Linked DNA regions of Homo sapiens: all the other regions are linked to region 1. The links come from fine-mapping of genetic effects on gene expression. A gene starts in region 1. Each other region holds a variant in brackets. All regions are shown on one strand. Distances are between the middles of the regions.

Region 1 (5,156 bases):
AGGATGTGAGGCAACAGGAACTCTCATGTATTGCTGGTGGGAATGCAAAATGCTCCAGCCACTTTGAGGACAGTGTAGCAGTTTCTTTAAAAACTAAACATACTCTCACCATATGATCCAGCAATTGTGCTCCTTGATGTTCACCCAAAGGACTTGAAAACATGTCCACACAGTAACCTTCACAAAGATGTTTATAGAGGCTTTACGCATAATTGCTAAAACTTGGAAGCAAACAAGATGTCCTTCAGTAGGTGAATGAATAAACTATGGTACCACCAGTCAATGGAATATTATTCAGCACTGTAAAGAAATGAGCTATCAAGCTATGAAAAGCCATGGAGGAAAACTAAAAGCATATTGCTAAGTGAAAGGAGTCAATCTGAAAGGGCTATATTCTGTATTATTGCAACTATAGGATATCCTGGAGAAGGCAAAACTATAAAGACAGTAAAATGATCAGTACTTGCCAGGGGTTGAAATGGGAGATGAATAAGTGGAACACAGAGAATTCAGGAGAGAACTGAAATTACTCTGTAAGATACTGTAATGGTGGATACATGTCATTATATATTTGCCTAACCCCATAGAATGGACAACACCATGAGCTAACCCTAAATGTGAACTACAGACCTTGGGAGATAATGAAACCTCAAAGTAAGTTCATTAATTTTAACAAATGTTTCATTCTGGTGGGGAATGTTGATAATGGGGGAGGCTATTCTTGTGTGGGAGTAGCGGTTATGTGGGAAATCTCTGTACCCTCCCTTCAGTTTTGCTGTGAACCTAAAATTGCTCTAAAAATAAAATTTTAAAAATAAAAGAATGTGGCATTGCTTGCATCTAATAAAAAAGACCATTATTCCTATTGCAGTTGAACTCTTCTTCCTATATCTACCACCAATCAGGGAAGAGAAGGCGATTTGTCCAGGATATGGCACTGAGAATTATCACAAGTGAGCTAGTTCACCTTCATTGCACAGTCTCAGTCACTGAAGTTTCCTTCCTTCAATAGCACATCTTACAAGTCAAGAATGTAAGGTCCAAAGCCCCAGGACAAATCTCAGAAGCAAAGAAAGCAGCAGGGAAAAGTAGACCCTGGGATTTGATTTCCTTCCGGTTATCTCTAAGCATCATTTCCATGATAGAAGGTGTGGAAGCAAATAATAAAAGTGCCCGTCACTAGTGTTTATCCTGCAAAGTGGTCTGCCCTTTTGAGAGGCACCCTGCCCTATGGCCATCCTTTGATTTCTTCCCTTGGTGGAAATTTCCTGTTTCTCTTTGAGAAAGATAATTCAACCCTGTTTCCATTGTTCTTCCTCCCAGGCTGCTGTAGGAAAGCGCACGCACACACTCCACACAAAATGAATTTTTAAAAAATTTATTTTCACAGTCGCTCCTACCAGCTCTGAAATTCAGAACCCATATGACTGATGGCATATTCAGATAATCGGGTCCCAGGTCTGGAAAAGCAGCCTTTTCCCCACGTTTCTTTCCCCACCTAGGACCTCCTCTGATTCTTCACTGCATCTTCGAAAGAAAATGTATTATTTGCTTGCCTGGAAGACGCTGCAATTCAATTGATTTTATATATACATATATATAAAGAAAACAGAAAACATAGCCTAGATACCGGTCTTGAGCGTCACCGCCCCACTCGCGGTTGTGAGCAAAGCCCTACGGAAGAAACCAATTCCCAGCCTAGACTCTTCAGAGCCCAAGGTCGGGGAGGCGCTGGCCTGGCGGTGTTGTCTGGCTCCCCAGCCACTGCCCCAGACTCAGGGCTTTGCCATTGGTCCCCACCTCCTCTGCTCCGGAGTTTTTCTCCAGCTCCCCACCAAGCCACACAAAGTGACTTCTCGGAAACATTAGCCGATTCTGCTGAGCAGGAAGGGAGGAAAGGGATGATGGGGGCGGGGGTGAGATAAGGGAAGGGCTCTTCTGGCTGCTGGACACACACACACACACACTCAAACACACACACGCCCCACCCAATGGGTGGCCGTGGATGGCAGGTCGTGCAACCCCCTCCTCCGCCTTCTATTAGCGCATGGTGCAGAGGCTACAGCGTCGCCACCACCGCGCCCCTAGCTGGGTCCCCGCCCTGCGCCGCCCGCAGGAGTGGAGAGAGGGAGGGAGGGAGGGAGCAAGGGGTGGGGACCCGGGCGCGCTGGGAGGAGTGGAGGAGGCAAAGCGGCGCAGCTGCCCTCGGGGAGGCGGGGCTGCTACCTCCACGGGCGCGCCCTGGCAGGAGGGGCGCAGTCTGCTTGCAGGCGGTCGCCAGCGCTCCAGCGGCGGCTGTCGGCTTTCCAATTCCGCCAGCTCGGCTGAGGCTGGGCTAGCCTGGGTGCCAGTGGCTGCTAGCGGCAGGCGTCCCCTGAGCAACAGGAGCCCAGAGAAAAAGAAGCAGCCCTGAGAGAGCGCCGGGGAAGGAGAGGCCCGCGCCCTCTCCTGGAGCCAGATTCTGCAGGTGCACTGGGTGGGGATGATCGGCGGGCTAGGTTGCAAGTAAGTGCCTTTTCTTTTGCTGCTTCTGTGGGGAGGGGAGGAGAAGCCCTCGGTCTTTCGCCCGTGCTCGCCTCAACCGCCACACCCACCTGTGTCTATTTTCACATCTCGGTTCTGGAACCCTGTATTACGCCACCTGGAAAGAAGAGAGGGGAGAAGCTTGACCGGGTGGTTCCAGCAATGGGAGGAAGAAGGGCTGGAAGCGTAGTTATTTCGATAGCTGGGCAGCTCCTGTGCGGTTTTGACTCTGTGGGTTTGCTGCCAGGTTCTGAAACTGTGGAAAGGAAGGGTAGCAATGCCTGGTGGTTTACTGTCTTTTATTTCTGTTTACGCTAGCAGAGTTGTTAGATGGACTTCAATTCAAGGGGCAGCTCACATTTTTTACGAGCAAAAAGCATGTGCTGTATTTCCCATCTGCAAAGCTGAGCGTGCAGAACCAGCTTAGCAGATACAACCTGTGGGGACAGAAAAGAACCCCGCACCCCTTAAGAGCACACAAACACAAATAATTGACAGGACAGCTCTGCCCCTATTTCTCAGCGCAGATTATTTATTTATTTTTTCGAATAAGCACTTTATAGTGAAATTCAGAAAAGATGCAGAATCCTTTTAACTTTTTATCGAATTCAACTTGGGAAACTCATTTACTTTTAGGAAAAAATGGATATTTTCGTGCCTTATATTCAAGACAAAAATCAGAACAAGAAACTAGAAACATTAATGCCAGTTTTTGTGATTATAGTAAACATTTCACTCATTATTTTAGTTTTTTTTTTTTAAGTTGGAGCGTTCATAGATTATATCTACTCTGATGTTAAGAGCAATTTACATGAGAAACTTAGGGGGGTTTTTAAGAAGCTAGTGTCAGTAAGATAAAAGCCAAATCAAAGTAAGCTTTCAAGGAAGTGATAGCTTGTCAGTTACTGAATAGGAAGTCAGTGTTGGGAAGTTCAGTTCTTTTCAGAAACATATTTATTATTCTTTTCTATTTCTTCTTCCCTGTAGACAAGATAAAGATTTTCTTTCTCTTTCTTTCCTTGTTATTTAAATATATTTTATAATTTTTGCTTTAACATCAATATAAACCTATTTTATATAAACTGCAAACCAAATCCAATTATTAAACTGTTCATTTTATTGCAAATTCTTCAGATTTTTTCCACTATTTAAAAAAGTTTATAATTTTTTCTTATAATTATGGTGAGATTTTTTAAAAATTATTGATTAGTTTGAAAGCTAGTCTTATCTGATCCCTGTGTCGCAAATTTTCATGATTGTTAGACTAGCTTATCAACAACAAAACTCTAGACAGAATATGGTATTTGATGTAAAGAAGAATGTGCCCTCTATTTAGGCAACTGATAGTTTGGCTTAAGACAAGTTTTTTAAAATTTTGTAGAGGTTTAAAAGGAGGTTTCCTTAAGTAAGCCACTGTGCAGTTGTGGGACTCAGTGATGTGTTTTTACAGTGACTGGATATATGATATGCCTTGATTCCTATGGTGCAGGGCTAGGCTCACAGAGTACCTGATGCTTCTACAGAAGAAAGATGAGTCAGGTCTGGCTCTCTGCCAAAAGCATCTTGGGCCTCCTTTCCCCTAGGGCCTGCATATAATCATGGGAGCCCTTCTGTGGTAATGCTTCTATGTTTTTACTACCTGTTGCTGTGCTGAGTTTCAGAAGCAAAATAGATAAACAAATAAATAAATTCAGAAGAGCAATCAGTAGGGTTCTATTTATTTAATATAATCAACCCACTTTCTCTGTGGCAAGGAAAAAAGTAGAATTTTTCATTTTACATGAATAATAAAATCTATTTTTTATCCAATTTCTATTCCTATTAGTTATGCAAAAGAGTGTGAAGTGCTAGAAGGATTTATATGGTACTTTTCTAAGACAAGTCATGATCTTGTAAAAGAGCTTAAAGTTTATTGATGTAAATGGAACATTCTAGATGTCATAATGATAATAATTTATGACTTTCCCTAAAACTCTGTCTCAGATTCTTTCCTCCCATCTTCATTATCTGAATAAATGCCTTCACCATCCAAGTATTGAAATCACCTTTGATTGCTCTCTTCCTTATTACTCCATTTCAGCCCTTTCCAGCCTGTAAGTAGATCTATCAATCTTATCTCCCAAACTTATTTCTATTTCATCATACGTCTCAGATGCCTCTCATTCACCCTCTTTTCTGTATCTACACGGCCACCAAATTAGTTCAGGTCATCATCATAATTTACTTGGAATCCTGCCACAGCCTCCATATCAATCTCTCCACTTCTGTAATTTTCTCCCCTGCAATTCATTCTCTATACAAAGCAATACCATCCTGTCTCCCCTAACAAACATTGGCTCACAACTGCATTTAAAAAAAAAAAAAAAGAGGAAGAAGAAGAGGAGAAGAAGAAATAAACATGGCAACACAGAGACCAATTAGCAACAACAGTAAATGCCTTTCCTCAGCATATGGTTTACTCTCTGTTCTGTCCCTTCTCTCCAACCTCACCAGAACCTATTCTCTTCTCATTAAGGTGCTCCTGCCCAGGTCGTGGCTAAAACACATGAAACAATAGCACTCTTTAAGGCCTTTTCAAATGCTGTTCCCAATGCCTGAACTCTATGCGTGCTTACTCCTTCTTAAACTTTAAA
Region 2 (5,156 bases), 51 kb after region 1:
GGTTAGTCTAATATGCTCTCATAAAAAAAGAAAAGTATTATGAGGTGGTGCCAGGACCTTGGGTCCTATTTGGCTATTTCTCCAAGGATCTCTCAATGGTAAGATCATCATATATCTAAGCTTGCCTAGAACAGTCCAAGGTCATTCCTGCTGTCTTGGTATTTTCTGTGTTGTGTAGCATTTATTCTTGACACAAAATCCTGGCTTGGAACATAAATGCTGTAGACATCCTGCCAAGGATTGAATCAAATTTATAAGTGTAACCCTGACAGCTAGGGTAGAGCTGTCTATTTCCTTCCTCCAAAGATGTTATCAGGTATTTAGATTAGTAAAATGAGAAATACTGAGATACCCTTATAATTCAAGGAGCACATAGGAATGGATATAGACTTGGTTTAAGTATTATTTTTCCCCTGTATTCTCCAGATTCAATCGTTTCGCACCTTTGACTTTCTTATCTAAACTGTAGAGCTATTCAATGACTAAATTGTACTTCTTATTGTCTTTGAATGTTTCAGCTTTATCTTGTTATTGACATATAGAATTTTTATTATCTTGATATTTCACTTATTCAATCGGAGGCCAGGTGTAGGAAGGACTCCAATATTTTCTTGGTGCCAAGACATAGAACAGAGTTTTCAGATCCATCTGGAAATTTTTCTGTTTTCATGGGAGAAGGCCTATAAGAGTTCATACTGGAAGGAAACATTGCCTCTCTCATCTCTCCTGATGACATATTTCTCTTTTATCATGGGAAGTCTTATGTTATGAGTAGATAAGTTATGAAGGTGATGTTATCGAACATAGGAGAGTAATTTAAAATATTATTGACAAAAGGGGCTTTTGTAGTTATAAACCAGGGTTAAGCGTATCCTTGTCAGCCAGAGTGGAGCTGTATTTTTGTCTTGCTCTGATGATGTTATCAGGTGTTCAGAGCTCAGTAAAATGAGAATCTCAGAGTCAAATACATTTCTTTTATCTCTATGTTACCTCACAGTTCCTAAAGTAACACAGAAATCAAAAGTCAGCCTTTTGTACCTTAACGGCATCATTAAGATGGATATGTAATAAAGCTTCAATTTAACAACTTAAAAGATATTTAGTATGCTTACCATGGTTGAGGGAGTTAAATTGTACTTATTCTAAAAGAAAATACACACAGATTCCCTCATAAGTGTATTTTTTTAGCCTATTATAATAAGACATAATGACTCTCAAGTATAATTAGGACTCAGACATTGTGACTCCAGTTTAGTTCTATGTTTATAAGTCATAAGCTCATTCCTGACCCAGGAGAGTGCATTTATAGAAAATTATCCTCCCAGGCATGATTACTTTAAGAAAACTGATCAGCATTTCTAATGGATCTCCTATTGATCAAAGCAATGCTATTTTGTACTGTGTAAAATATGTATTTTTAATGTATTAATTGTAATTCATTTTAATTAAAAGTGGTTCAAATTTATGTCTATTATCACTTAGGTATATTATAGATAATATAGATAATGGCAATGCATTTACCTGATAAATTCAAATTCACTGAGCTATTATTACCTTTATTTAATATTAGAATAATTCTACATCTGTGATTTCCTTTTGCTTAAACTTTTGTCTTGGAATAGATTTATGGAAAAATGGTGCAGATAGTAAGGACAGTTTCAATATACCCCACATCCAGTTTCCCCTGTTATTAACAGTTTATATTAGTATGGCGCATTTGTCACAATTAACAAAACCATGTGATACATCATTATTATTAACAAATGCCCTTACCCTATTCAGAGTTCCTTAGTTTTTCACTAATTTCCTTTTTCTCTTTCAAGATCTCACCCAGGCTACCACATTACATTTAACCATCATACCATCATATCACCTTAAGCATCTCTAGGCTGTCGCAATTTCTCAGGCTTTCCTTGTTTTTGATGATGTTGATACTTTGAGTGAGTATAGGTTAGGTATTTTGTAGAATGTTCCTGAATTGGTATTTGTCTGATATTTTTCTCATGGTTAGATTAAGGCTATAAGTTTTGGGAAGGAAGATCACATATGTAAAAGGCCATTCTCATCACATAGTATCAATGGTACACATTGTCAATGAGTTATCGTTGTTGATGTTAACTATGATTTAAATAAACTTTTTAGGTTCTCATGTTCTGATTCTATGGTGCCTTGAGAATGCTTTAAAAATTAATGGTACTTCAGTCAAGATTTTACCTGCAGGAAAAAATCACTATGTGTTTCTAGAGAAGTGACATTTTCAAAGCAGTATTTCATTTTACAACAGTTAGCATCAATAAAAATGTATTTTTTATTTATCTTTACATTTGTCCACTGTCTTAAATATTTATACTGACTCAATCTCATTCAGATTTTGGCAGATCTTCCAAATGATTAATTGGACCAATTTTAAATAAATAAATTTATTTATTTATTTGAGATGGAGTCCCGCTCTCTGGTTCAGGCTGGAGTGCAGTGGCGCGATCTCGGCTCACTGCAACCTCTGCCTGCTGGGTTCAAGTAATTCTCCTGCCTCAGCCTCCTGAGTAGCTGAGATTGCAGGCGCCCACACCACACCTGGCTAATTGTTGTAATTTTATCGAAATAAGATTAAGTTATTTACAGGTAAGAGGCTCAGTGATGGAATGCAAAACAGCCTGAAATTATTATAGAGTTGTGAGCATGTAGCTATTTTCCTGCTCCTTGAAATAAGAAAATATAGAGTTGTGAG[C/T]GTGTAGCTATTTTCCTGCTCCTTGAAATAAGAAAATGTCATATCATAGTCCCTCTAATCAAGATTAAAGAAACAAACAAGTAAACACTACTTGCTTTCTACAAGAGATGTCAAAAGTTATCAAAGGAAACATACTGTTTAAAGGAATTATCTGGGAGATATTTTTAAGAGAATAACTTATTCTCTTAAATAAATATAGCTTTCATATATAAGATAAACATTAATTATTACAAAAGCACAACATATTACAAAATTATATGGACATAATATGCACATACTCTAACTGAGCCACAATAGAATTGGTGCCCTGACACTAATAAATCATTTGGGAACTGCAGTTTGGAGTATTTAGTACCTGTTATGTGGCCAAGAAGGTAATAGAGGCCACTGAGACCTTTTCCAGTCTAATATAATGGGCACAACTCACATTTTTTCCTTTTAGTTATTAGGTAAAAATTAGTGTTGGTGTTTACTTCAGTGATTTTTTAGAGGATTTACAATTTTTACTGTGAACACTTAGGGAAACCCACTTCCCACCTCATCCTATAGATTTTCCCTATGTGAAGGGTTTTCATAGTACCTTGGGGATGAAAGGAAGTCCCCCAAATAATTTTCCTGATGTCTGCTTCCAATATTTGACTTCAAGAATACCGTTTTCCAAATAGTATGTTCAGAGCCATACCAGGCACACAGAGTCTCTAAAACTCTGGAGAGACTGTAATATTTCTTTGCTTGAAGGAAGGGATCATTCTTGTATTCTGTTCAGAGATTACATTAATGATATTTAAATGTTTCTCAGAAGATAAACCAAGTGTTGGAATTTATTTGCTTTTGACCCTGTTCAGCAATATTCAATGAATAAAAAAGAAAAAAGTCTTAATGATAGTTCTTGAGCCACATGACTTTGTCTAATTAAAAAATATTTTGCAAGTCTTCATATAAAGTTCAAAACAACAAAGGTGAAATGATGGGAATTTTCTTAAGAAAGGAAATTCTGCAGTGACCCAATCCTTTGAGCAATCAACAGTCATTCTAGGGATACTCTTGTATTGTTTAAAATTACATTTTACAAAATAAATAATGTCCTAAATGCCTCAACATTTTTAGAATCAGAAAAGTTGCTTAACTGGGATGTCCAAGATCATTTAGCTAGTAAGTAGTGAATCCAGTATTCAAAACCCAGGCTTTCTAGCTCCTGAACTTGTCCTAGACTCACTACTCTAAACTAAATCTCTGTTTAATATTACATGCTCATATGAAATGTTTCATGTTTAAAAGGCCAATACATTCCCATAAATGGAAATATCCTCATTTAATATAATTAATATATTTTAATTATGGAAGCATGATAAAATTATCCAAAGCAAGGAATTAAAATAGAAGGATGAGACAAGTTAATAATCTTATGAGCTCCATGAATACGTGTTCATTATGTGCAAAACTCTTCCTGTTAAGCACTTTATATACAGTTAACCATCACAATCTAAACCACTCTTCGGAGCATGATTATTAACTCAATTTTTCAAACTAGGAATCTTAGGCTCAGAGAGGTTATGTCATCTCCACAGGGTCAACAGCTCTAAAATGTGGAGCACAAATTGTAATGGGAAAGGCCAAGATGATTATTGACCTGTGAGCCACTGAAACCAGTGTGAATTGTTCTGTATGGAATAGAAGTACACTTCATGATATATATTGTAACTGTTGCTGAAGGATTTTATTCATTTTACATTGGATCAAATGGAAATCGAGCTGTATATTAAAGATTTTACAAAAGCTCCAAATTAAGAAGAAACTATAGAAACTCAAATAAAATGAAATTTTTTTTAAAAAAGTGTTTTCTAAGTAGTGTTTCATAAAGTAATACAAATTTTTAGTTATTAGGCTGATAAAATAAATCTATTTCTTTTAGTATCTTTGTCCTTTCTTTTTGAATGTTGTTACACATTCCTGAAAGTTGGAAGATCAGCGTTTTAAAATAAATGCTAGGAAAGACCTAATGTAACTCTTGATTATTTTACAGCATCAAGAGTTCTTCCTTCTTCTTGCTTATTGCTTGACAACAGATTGACTGAGGATGCTTTAGAGCTGACAGGTTTGGAGGATGAGGGATGAGTGAGTATGAGCAAAACTCTGAGGAGGAGCACTGCATGCCTCAAAAGAACTTGGAGAGAATAAGAGTTACCAAAAAAAAAAAAAAAAAAAGATTTTGCCAGGCTATAATTGGAATGAAGTGATATAAGTGACATGAATGATGCTTAAAATGTTGAGAATTAAAAAGTAAATATTAAAACATTGAAAAACTTTTTTTTACCCTTTTTGGTTTATCATCTTCCTTCTCTCCTTCAACTTCCATTTTTTTCATTCAGTTTTTCCCCTCATTCCAACTCTTCTTTCTTTAATTGAACATAATAGAGACTCGGAGTTC
Region 3 (5,156 bases), 63 kb after region 1:
GAAGAATCAAACTGGTAATGGACATCTGAGTTCACAACATCTTTGTACCTAGATTTCTGTCAAATAATTCTTGAAAGAGATGGTACCCTCCAGTTGAATGTAGAATCTACAAAAACACCAGTTATTCAAGCCAACTTTTCTTCAAGAGCCACAGTATGTCTACACTGAAAGTCTAGTGAGGCAAGTTATCCCGTCTTCTCACCTTTATGATTTCCAAAAGTGTTGAGGAATCTCCAAAGCACAAGTGGCAACTGCTTTGATTTGATTCATTGATTTGTTTCCTTTTTACTAAATCTCTTCCTATTCTGAGGACAATTTTCACATATTTTAGGATTCAAAATTCTTAATGCATATTCATAGTAGTTTTATTAAGATATAATTTACACACCATAAAAAATCACCATTTTAAAGTGTATCACTCAGTGGTTTTTAGTATGTTCACAAAGGTATGCAACAATCATCATTATGTAGTTTTAGAATATTTTTATCACCCCAAAAGAAGCCCCATACTCTTTAACCATTAACCACATAACCATCAATAATCACTTCCTATTACACCCAGCCTCTGACAAAAAATACTCTACATTTTGTTTCTGGGGATTTGCCTATTCTGGACATTTCATAAGATGGAATCATATCGTATGTGGCCTTTTGGCTCTGTGTTCTTTCACGGGGTTTTCATCACATCCATGTTGTAACATGTACCTATACTTCATTTGTTTTTATTGCTAAATACTAATTCAGTGTTTGAATATCCCACATTCCTTTATCCATTTATTCATTGGTGAGTAATGAGGTTGTGTTTACTTTTTGGCTAGTATGAATAATGCTGCTGAACATTCATGTAAACGTTCTTGTGTGGACATATGTTTTAAATTCCCTTGAGTCTGTACCAAGTAGTGGAATTGCCGAGTCATAACTTACTCTTTACCTTTCAGAATCATCCTACTTTTGAATGTGTATATGAAATATCCCTTATTTTTCACTACATTCTTTAAAAACCTTTATCCTAACTTTGGTTTCCATCAAAATACAGGCATACTTCATTTTATGGGGCTTTACTTTATTGCACTTCAAGATACTGCATTCTTTACAAGTTGAAGGTTTGTGGCAACCCTGCATTAAGCAAGTCTGTCAGCGTAATTTTTTCAACAGCATGTGCTCACTTCATGCATCTGTGTCACACTTTGGCAATTCTCACAATATTTCAACTTTGTAATTGCCATTATTTAATTATTACTGTATGTGTTATGGTGATCTATGATCAGTGATCTTTGTTGTTACTGTGGTAATTGTTTTGGGGTGCTATGAACCACATCCACATAAGACAGCAAACAATCATTAAATGTGACGTGTTCTGTTTCAGCATCCCTATCTCTCTCCCTTTCCTCAGGCTTCCCTGTTCCCTGACACACAACGATGTTAAAATTAGGCCAATTAGTAACCCATTCCCACCCCTAATGTTCAAGTAAAGGAAGAATTGCGCATTTCTCACTTTAAATCAGAAGCTAGAAATGATTAAGCTTAGTGAGGAAGGCATGTTGAAAGCCAAGATAGGCCAAAATCTAGGCCTCTTGCACTAAGTACTTAGCCAAGTTGTGAATGCAAAGGAAACATTCTTGAAGGAAATCAAATGTGCTACTCCAGTGAACACATGAATGATAAGAAAACAAAACAGCCTTATTGCAAATATAGAGAAAGTTTTAGTGATCTAGATAGAAGATCAACCAGCCACAACATTTCCTTAAGCCAAAGCCTAATCCACAGCAAGGCCATAACTCCAATTGTATGAAGGCTGAGAGGTGAAGAAGCTGGAAAAAAAAGGTTTGAAGCTGGCAGACGGTACCCCATGAGATTGAAGGAAAGAAGTCACTGCCATAACATAAAAATGCAAGGTGAAACAGCAAGTGCCAATGGAGAAGATGCAGCAAGTTATTCAGAAGATCTAGCTAAGATCATTGATAAGAGTGGTTACATTAAACAACAGATTTGCAATGAAGGTCTAACAGCCTTCTACTAGAAGAATATATTATAGCTAGAAAGGAGAAGTCAATGTCTGGCTTCAAAGCTTCAACGAACAGGCTGACTCTCTTGTTAGGGGATAATGCAGCTGGTGACTTTAAATTGAAGCAAATGCTAATTTATCGTTCAGAAAATCTTAGAATTATATTATTTAATTATTCAGAATATTAATAATTATTTACTATTCAGAAAATTACATAATAATTATATTATTTACTATTCAGAAAATTACATAATAATTATATTATTTACTATTCAGAAAATTAAATAATTATATTCTTTACTATTCAGAAAATTAAATAATAACTATATTATTTAATTATTCAGAAAATTAAATAATAATTATATTATTTAATCATTCAGAAAATCTCTTAAGAATTATACTAAATCTACTCTGCCTGTGCTCTATAAATAGAACAACAAAGCCTGGATGACAGCACGTCTGTTTACAGCATGGTTCACTAAATATTTTAGGCCCAGTGTTGATACTTATAGCTCAGGAAAAAAAAAAAA[G/AG]ATTTCTTTCAAAATATCACTGCCTATTGACAATGTGCCTGGTCACTCAAGAGCTCTAACGGAGAGGTACAAGGGCATTAATGTTATTTTCATGCCTGCTAACGCTATCCATTCTGTAGCCTATGGGCCAAAGAGTAATTTCAACTTTTAAGTCTTATTTTTTAATAAATACATTTTATAAGACTATAGCTGCCATAGATAGTGATTCCTCTGATGGGTCTGGGAAAAGTAAATTGAAAATCTTCTGGAAAGGATTCACCATTCTAGATGTTATTAGAACATTAATGATTTGTGGGAGGAGGGCAATATACAAACATTAATAGGAAATTGGAATGAGTTGATTCCAACTCTCATGGATGACTATGAGAGGTTTAAGACTTCAGTGATGGAAAGAACTGCAGATGTGGTGGAAATAGCAAGAGAATTAGAATTAAGAGATGGAGCCTAAAATTGTGACTGAATTGCTGCCATCTCGCGGTAACTTGAATGGATGAGGAGTTGCTTCTGATTGATAAGCAAAGAAAGTGGTTTCGTGAGATGGAATCTTCTCCTGGTCAAGATGTTATGAACATTGTTGAAGTGACAGCAGAGGATTTAGAATATTACATAAGTTTAGTTGGTAAAACAGCATCAGGCTGGAGAGTGGTGCTACCAAAGGCATTATCATAAAGACTTTTAAAAGAGGAAAGTTGAGTTGAATTGCACCAAAGGTAAATATAGACGAAAAGAAGGGGAATTTAGGAAAATTTACTCAGAAAATTGTCATTTTTTACTTTAAAGCTATGAAGCGTAAACTTCAAATTTCTGAGTATAAAGATGGTTAGAAGGCACGAAAGATAAGTCCCGCCCATTGCCTGACACATAGTAATCCCTTAACAAGCTGATAATTCTAGAACATGTTACCTTTTGTAGTTGAAACTAAAAATCTGTTTATGTTGTTATTATTAGTTTTTAATGGGCCTTTCTTGGCAGGCAAATAGTTAAGTCTTTATTTCTTTGTTTCCATCCAGGCCTCTTATGTGAGGAGCTGAAGAGGAATTAAAATATACAGGATGAAAAGATGGCAATGTTGCCTCCCCCAGGACCTCAGAGCTTTGTCCATTTCACAAAACAGTCTCTTGCCCTCATTGAACAACGCATTGCTGAAAGAAAATCAAAGGAACCCAAAGAAGAAAAGAAAGATGATGATGAAGAAGCCCCAAAGCCAAGCAGTGACTTGGAAGCTGGCAAACAGCTGCCCTTCATCTATGGGGACATTCCTCCCGGCATGGTGTCAGAGCCCCTGGAGGACTTGGACCCCTACTATGCAGACAAAAAGGTGAGTTTATTTTGACTTCAGTGGTCAGTTTCTGTTGGCTTCCTTCTGTATAAAAATTATTTTAAATTGAGATTAGTGAAATTTAGTGAATAACCATATCATGACCAGAATGTTAAATTAAATATATATATATATATATATATATATATATATATATATATATATATAGGATATTCAGAATCTGTACTTTTTCAAATTTTTCATTGAAATTGGCTCTGGCATTGGCATACTACTTTTAATTTTTTTTTTTAATTATACTTTAAGTTTTAGGGTACATGTGCACATTGTGCAGGTTAGTTACATATGTATACATGTGCCATGCTGGTGCGCTGCACCCACTAACTGGTCATCTAGCATTAGGTATATCTCCCAATGCTATCCCTCCCCCCTCCCCCCACCCCACCACAGTCCCTAGAGTGTGATATTCCCCTTCCTGTGTCCATGTGATTTCATTGTTCAATTCCCACCTATGAGTGAGAATATGCGGTGTTTGGTTTTTTATTCTTGTGATAGTTTACTGAGAATGATGATTTCCAATTGCATCCATGTCCCTACAAAGGACGTGAACTCATCATTTTTTATGGCTGCATAGTATTCCATGGTGTATATGAGCCACATTTTCTTAATCCAGTCTATCATTGTTGGACATTTGGGTTGGTTCCAAGTGTTTGCTATTGTGAATAATGCCACAATAAACATATGTGTGCATGTGTCTTTATAGCAGCATGATTTATAGTCCTTTGGGTATATACCCAGTAATGGGATGGCTGGGTCAAATGGTATTTCTAGTTCTAGATCCCTGAGGAATCGCCACACTGACTTCCACAATGGTTGAACTAGTTTACCACCAACAGTGTAAAAGTGTTCCTATTTCTCCACATCCTCTCCAGCACCTGTTGTTTCCTGACTTTTTAATGATTGCCATTCTAACTGGTGTGAGATGGTATCTCATTGTGGTTTTGATTTGCATTTCTCTGATGGCCAGTGATGATGAGCATTTTTTCATGTGTTTTTTGGCTGCATAAATGTCTTCTTTTGAGAAGTGTCTGTTCATGTCCTTTGCCCACTTTTTGATGGGGTTGTTTGTTTTTTTCTTGTAAATTTGTTTGAGTTCATTGTAGATTCTGGATATTAGCCTTTTGTCAGATGAGTAGGTTGCGAAAATTGTCTCCCATTTTGTAGGTTGCATGTTCACTCTGATGGTAGTTTATTTTGCTGTGCAGAAGCTCTTTAGTTTAATTAGATCCCATTTGTCAATTTTGTCTTTTGTTGCCATTGCTTTTGGTGTTTTAGACATGAAGTC
Region 4 (5,156 bases), 28 kb before region 1:
TAGACTCTAGCAAGCTTTCAGATTTTGCAGCTGCTCTTGATCCTCCTCTTTTCATGGCAAAACCAAACAAGGGCCAGCTCATTGCTTTGGACCTCCCCATGGCTGTTGGGGACAGAATTCATTGCCTCGATATCTTACTTGCTTTTACAAAGAGAGTTATGGGTCAAGATGTGAGGATGGAGAAAGTTGTTTCAGAAATAGAATCAGGGTTTTTGTTAGCCAACCCTTTTAAGATCACATGTGAGCCAATTACGACTACTTTGAAACGAAAACAAGAGGCAGTTTCAGCAACCATCATTCAACGTGCTTATAAAAATTACCGCTTGAGGCGAAATGACAAAAATACATCAGATATTCATATGATAGATGGTGACAGAGATGTTCATGCTACTAAAGAAGGTGCCTATTTTGACAAAGCTAAGGAAAAGTCACCTATTCAAAGCCAGATCTAATACCACTTACCACCTCTTTTCATATTTCTTCACATATCTGAAAAATGTTGAAAGCCTAAGCCAGGAATAAAAGAAAAGTAGAGATAATAATCAGTTCTTTACAACCGATGGTAATTAAGCTTGTATTCACAAGACTTCATGCCAAATTCACTTTTTAGCATTATATCTAACAAATCAAGAGAATCCTTAATATTGCTGCAGTGAGTTTAAAGTGGGTTAAAGTGGCCATTTGACAATCTCATATTTGTTTTCTCTACATGGCTTATATGATGTGTGCCTTCTAGGGAATGAAGGGAAGTGGTGATAGAGATCAGCAGCAGCAGGGGCTTTCTTTTATATTTTATGTATAATTTAATGGGCTTTAAGTCACCACTATTAAGACTTACAAATAAGCAAATACTTTCCTGATGTGGGATGGTGAAATGCTAATGGCCATTAAATCATAAACTTGCCTAGACAAAAGCCAATTGGAAGAAGGGAGAGAGCAGTTCTTTAGAAAGTGCCTTTGAGATCAACCTCAGAGATTCTTGGGCTGATTAAAACTGCATTTGAAAAAGATTGGTTGAAGCTCTGTGTTTATTTTTGTATGTTCTTGTTTTCATTTGGAACTGGGAATGAATAGGATTTCATTGTGCTCAAGCTCCTGGTTTCTCATCTCTGGATAGTTTCACCTAAGCTCTGGCTCTTAAGCAGGACAGATTCGTAAAACAAGAAGCATAAAGGAGAGGTATAGCCTTTTTTTTTTTTTTTTTTTTCATTTTCTTCTCATTTACACCTATTTTTTTAAAAAGTATACATTTACTAAAATGATGTAATAAATAACATGTTAATAGACTCAAGCTTTACCTTATGAAATTGATGTATTTTTACCAGTTATTTCTAATGTAACATTGAATATATAAGATCTGACAAATGTATGTTTAAACATGAATTAGAAGAGTTGAGAACTACCATTATGTATAGGGATTCTCATAGTGTCTTGGCCCTTAATTGGAAAGTTGTGGCAACTTTAAAGTACTTTTTACTGTATGTTATAATTCTTTATAACTTAGAGAGAGACAATGGTCACTCAAACTATGAGAACTATGAATTAGGAGATAAAAGTTTAAATTTGTTGTTGTTTTATAACAGTATGTACAAGTTAGTTTTCCCTTATATATTTACGTTTTCAAGTTTTTTAATCTCATCATATACATCCATACTCTATAAAATGTTTTATATTCAAAGAACTGTAAAATCCTAAACATTAGTTTTCACTATTGAAATTGTTTTTTAAAGATAGGCATAAATAGTTGTCCTTAGACTTATTCATACAAATATAGTCATTTACTTCTATGTAGTTTGAGATTCTGAGAGTTATTCCAACTTTATGAAGATTGATTTCAATGTGCCTGCTAAGTCCTAAAAGATTCAGAAAGAAAATTTATATATTATTGATTTAAATATCATCCTTTAAATATGTTGTATAACATTCAATATAGTTTATGTATCAGTGATTGTATTTTATTCTGAATGCATGATCTCAAGCCTTAACTACTATAATCTTTTTCTGCCCCTCAGAAATTGAATAACCTAACCAAGATGCCTTTAGGGGATGCCCTAAGTAAATGTAATTTCAGATTTCAGGGTTTTTTTTTTTTCCTCTCTAAGTGTTCCTTCCCTTTCTTCTCCTGCTCTCCATCATGTTATGGAGACCAGTGAGGAACCAGTGTTAACTTGGTGACAATGTGACAGCTGGTGCTTTATCTAAGCTCCGTTTTCTATTTCTTGGGAATGCTTTATTGTGGAAACTGCTTCAGATACTTAAATTGAATCATAACTTGCTTCTGTAAATTGCGTAAAGACAACAAACTGATTTTAGTTTGAAAAGTTTATCTTTTACTTGTAAACCTTGTTTGCCAGTTACCTTCCGAAAGCTGTGTAAAGAGTTATTTTTAACAAAGTCTTAACAATATATGTTACTTTTTAGATACTATAGAAAATAATAAATATAACCTGTAAACCACATTAAGCTATGTTTGTTTTTAATTTGATAAATCACATTGGCAACTTTGTGTAGTATACTTTTTAAAAATAAGCTTTACATTAAAGTTTGTTAATTCAGGCTTAAAACTGGAAACAGTTGTGCTTTCTTTAGATCACATAATTTTGTAAAATACATTTTAGTAAGCTTACCAGTGGCCCCTACACATTAACAAGATGTAAAATGATCACTCTTCTTATCAAAATTATAATGATAATTTTACTAGATATATTTTCGTATTATTAGAATTTGCTTTCTGGAAGATAATACTGAAATTAAATTTATTGGTACACTACTATTTATCAATTTCTGCATCTTCAAAAATTTTATTGTGCTTCATTAGTAAATATAATACACTTGAAATTGTTTTAAAGATAATGGTAACAGCTACCATTTATTGAGCACACTTCTATGCCCAGCCTTATCGTATGTATTTATCGTGCATGAAGAAGTGATCACTCTCAGTTCATGAGTGAAAAAAGTTAGGTTTAGAAAGGTTATGAAGTTTTTATATGGCAGAGACCCTATAAGTAAAAAGGCCAGGACTCTAAACCAGGTCCAGTTACAGAGCCTTAATGTGTTTTCTCTCACACTCGCTCTCTCGCTCGCTCGCTCTCCATCTCCCGCTGTCCCACTTTCCCCATTTGGTGCAGTAAATTTTAAAAGTAGAGACATTCCCTGGAAAAAGGGAAGTC[A/G]TAAGGGATAAAATTATAGAAGTTGAAAAATTCAACGTTTTGTGAATGCTGAATACTAAAGGTAAACTCAGATCCTATTCAGATAAAGATATATCTGAGACTGAAGGGCTTACTGACTACTGGGGGGAAACGTAATATGCAGCTGGTTATAATATGTGATAATTTTTATACTGTGAGTGTACATTGTAATACACATATAGGCAGGAATGATGGGTTCTGTGTTGGATATCAGAGGTGAAGTGAGTAAAGTGGGCTCCTGCAGAGAAAGGAGGACTTTGTCAATTAAAGAAGGCAATTTTATTAAACACAGAGGCACTTTTAAGGAGAAGAGTCCACCACAGATATGAGACCTAGGCATCCAGCTTATAGTTCTTCAGCCTGGAGGATAAAGAGATATGAACCAAGGAGACGATGCAATCCCTATTGCAGAGATTAGCTAGAAAATCTGAGCAGAATTACTCTGGACACCTCAAATCCCTTCTCAGACATGTTTTATTTTTCCCTTTGGTTTTTGAACTTTCTCTTCTGTTGTCTGTTCCTTTCCATAAATTCTGGGTCTGCATTCTTAGCTATGATGGTTAATAAAGAACTCCAATGAATGATTTGAGTCTTCACAAGTGGAAATTTTCATCTTTATGTTCGGTAAACTAAAACTTTCAGGCTTAGACACTTAATCATCTCCTCATCTGTATGGAAACCTCTGTCTTCAACTACTTATAATCACACACTGACTCAAATAATTCTATCTCAACTCCAGCCCTAGGTTCTACTCTCTATCCAGGTGGCGTAACCCTATACTCCTTGATTCTGGTCTAGGCTTTTTGAAAGCCTACACCTTCAAATGATCCATAAGTTCTCAGTCCACATTTATACACAATTTTATCACCATTTTTCCTTATTTTCTCCCTCCATGTTGTCCTGTAATAAAAATCTGTTGAGCACCTCCTAGGTATTAGGCACAACAATTTAGAGATAAATAGGGTTGCTCTTATCTTTAAAAAGTCATTTCTTAGTGTGACAAGTAAAACACCATGTTGGAACTATTTGTTAACTCCCTTCCAATAATGGAGATCCTCAACAAGGGCTAGTGGAAAATCTTACTGAACTTAGCAGAAAAGCTGGATCTTAAGCTAAGTGTTCAAGTAAATGGGATTTTGTTGGAGGTCATGATGAATATGAGGAATGACATCCTAAGCTGAAGTGACAGCAAATATAGAAGTGTGAAAAATAGAGTCCATAAACCCCAAGTCTCTCTACTTGTATGTTTATGCAAAAAGCATTCAAAAAATGGCATGAGATGGTAGAGTTGGATTCTAGAATGTGTTCATATGAGGGAAAGAAAAATGACAACTCAAGAGTGTTAAGGTTGAGGTGACCTCAAAGGAACACTTAGACTGGGTGCAGTAGCTCATTTCTGAAATCTCAGCACTTTGGGTGGCCAAGGTGGGAGGATTGCTTGAGCCCAGTAGTTCAAGACCAGCCTGGGCAACATAGTGAGACCCTGTCTCTAAAATTTTAAAAAAGGAGAACACTTAAAGTGGGTTTTCTCAATTACCAAGCAAAACCTATCTTATACATGAAATTGCTCGTATTGTCTATCATTCTTTTTAAAATATATTTATTGAGACATGATTAACATATGAAATTCTCCTTGTACAGTATATAATTAGATGGTTTTAGTATATTAACAGAGCTGTACAAGCATCACAGCAATTCAAGTTTATAACAGTTTTATCTCTGTTGAGAGTCACTCCATATTCCACCATCACCTAACCCTAGAAAACCATGAATTTACTTTCTGTCTCTATAGATTTATCTGTTCTAGACAGTTAATATTAATGGAATAATATAATATGTTATTCTTTTTCTTTTTTGTTTAACTTTTATTTTAAGTTCAGGGGTACAATTGCAGGTTTGTTACATAGGTAAACTTGTGTCATGGGGATTTGTTGTGCAGATTATTTCATCACCCAGGTCTTAAGCCTA

What was found. PIP is the estimated chance that this variant, and not a neighbour inherited with it, causes the effect.
Region 2: its variant is the best candidate, but not a certain one, in a credible set for the expression of SCN9A in whole blood (TOPMed, PIP 0.89).
Region 3: its variant is the best candidate, but not a certain one, in a credible set for the expression of SCN9A in monocytes after interferon gamma (Fairfax 2014, PIP 0.63).
Region 4: its variant is the best candidate, but not a certain one, in a credible set for the expression of SCN9A in blood mononuclear cells (TOPMed, PIP 0.58).

The regions. Positions count from the first base shown.
Region 1 is chr2:166,373,046-166,378,201 of GRCh38, reverse strand. SCN9A (sodium voltage-gated channel alpha subunit 9) reads left to right here and starts at 2,258. Exons shown (of 27, transcript NM_001365536.1): 1 at 2,258-2,505.
Region 2 is chr2:166,321,571-166,326,726 of GRCh38, reverse strand. All of the region lies in intron 1 of SCN9A (sodium voltage-gated channel alpha subunit 9), which reads left to right. Among named protein-coding and RNA genes, the nearest start is that of SCN9A, 52 kb to the left of the region's middle. The variant C/T (reference allele first, on the strand shown) is at 2,729.
Region 3 is chr2:166,310,196-166,315,351 of GRCh38, reverse strand. SCN9A (sodium voltage-gated channel alpha subunit 9) reads left to right here. Exons shown (of 27, transcript NM_001365536.1): 2 at 3,546-3,853. The coding sequence starts at 3,596. Among named protein-coding and RNA genes, the nearest start is that of SCN9A, 63 kb to the left of the region's middle. The variant G/AG (reference allele first, on the strand shown) is at 2,536.
Region 4 is chr2:166,400,876-166,406,031 of GRCh38, reverse strand. It overlaps SCN7A (sodium voltage-gated channel alpha subunit 7), which reads left to right. Exons shown (of 26, transcript NM_002976.4): 26 at 1-2,459. The coding sequence ends at 452. Among named protein-coding and RNA genes, the nearest start is that of SCN9A, 28 kb to the right of the region's middle. The variant A/G (reference allele first, on the strand shown) is at 3,171.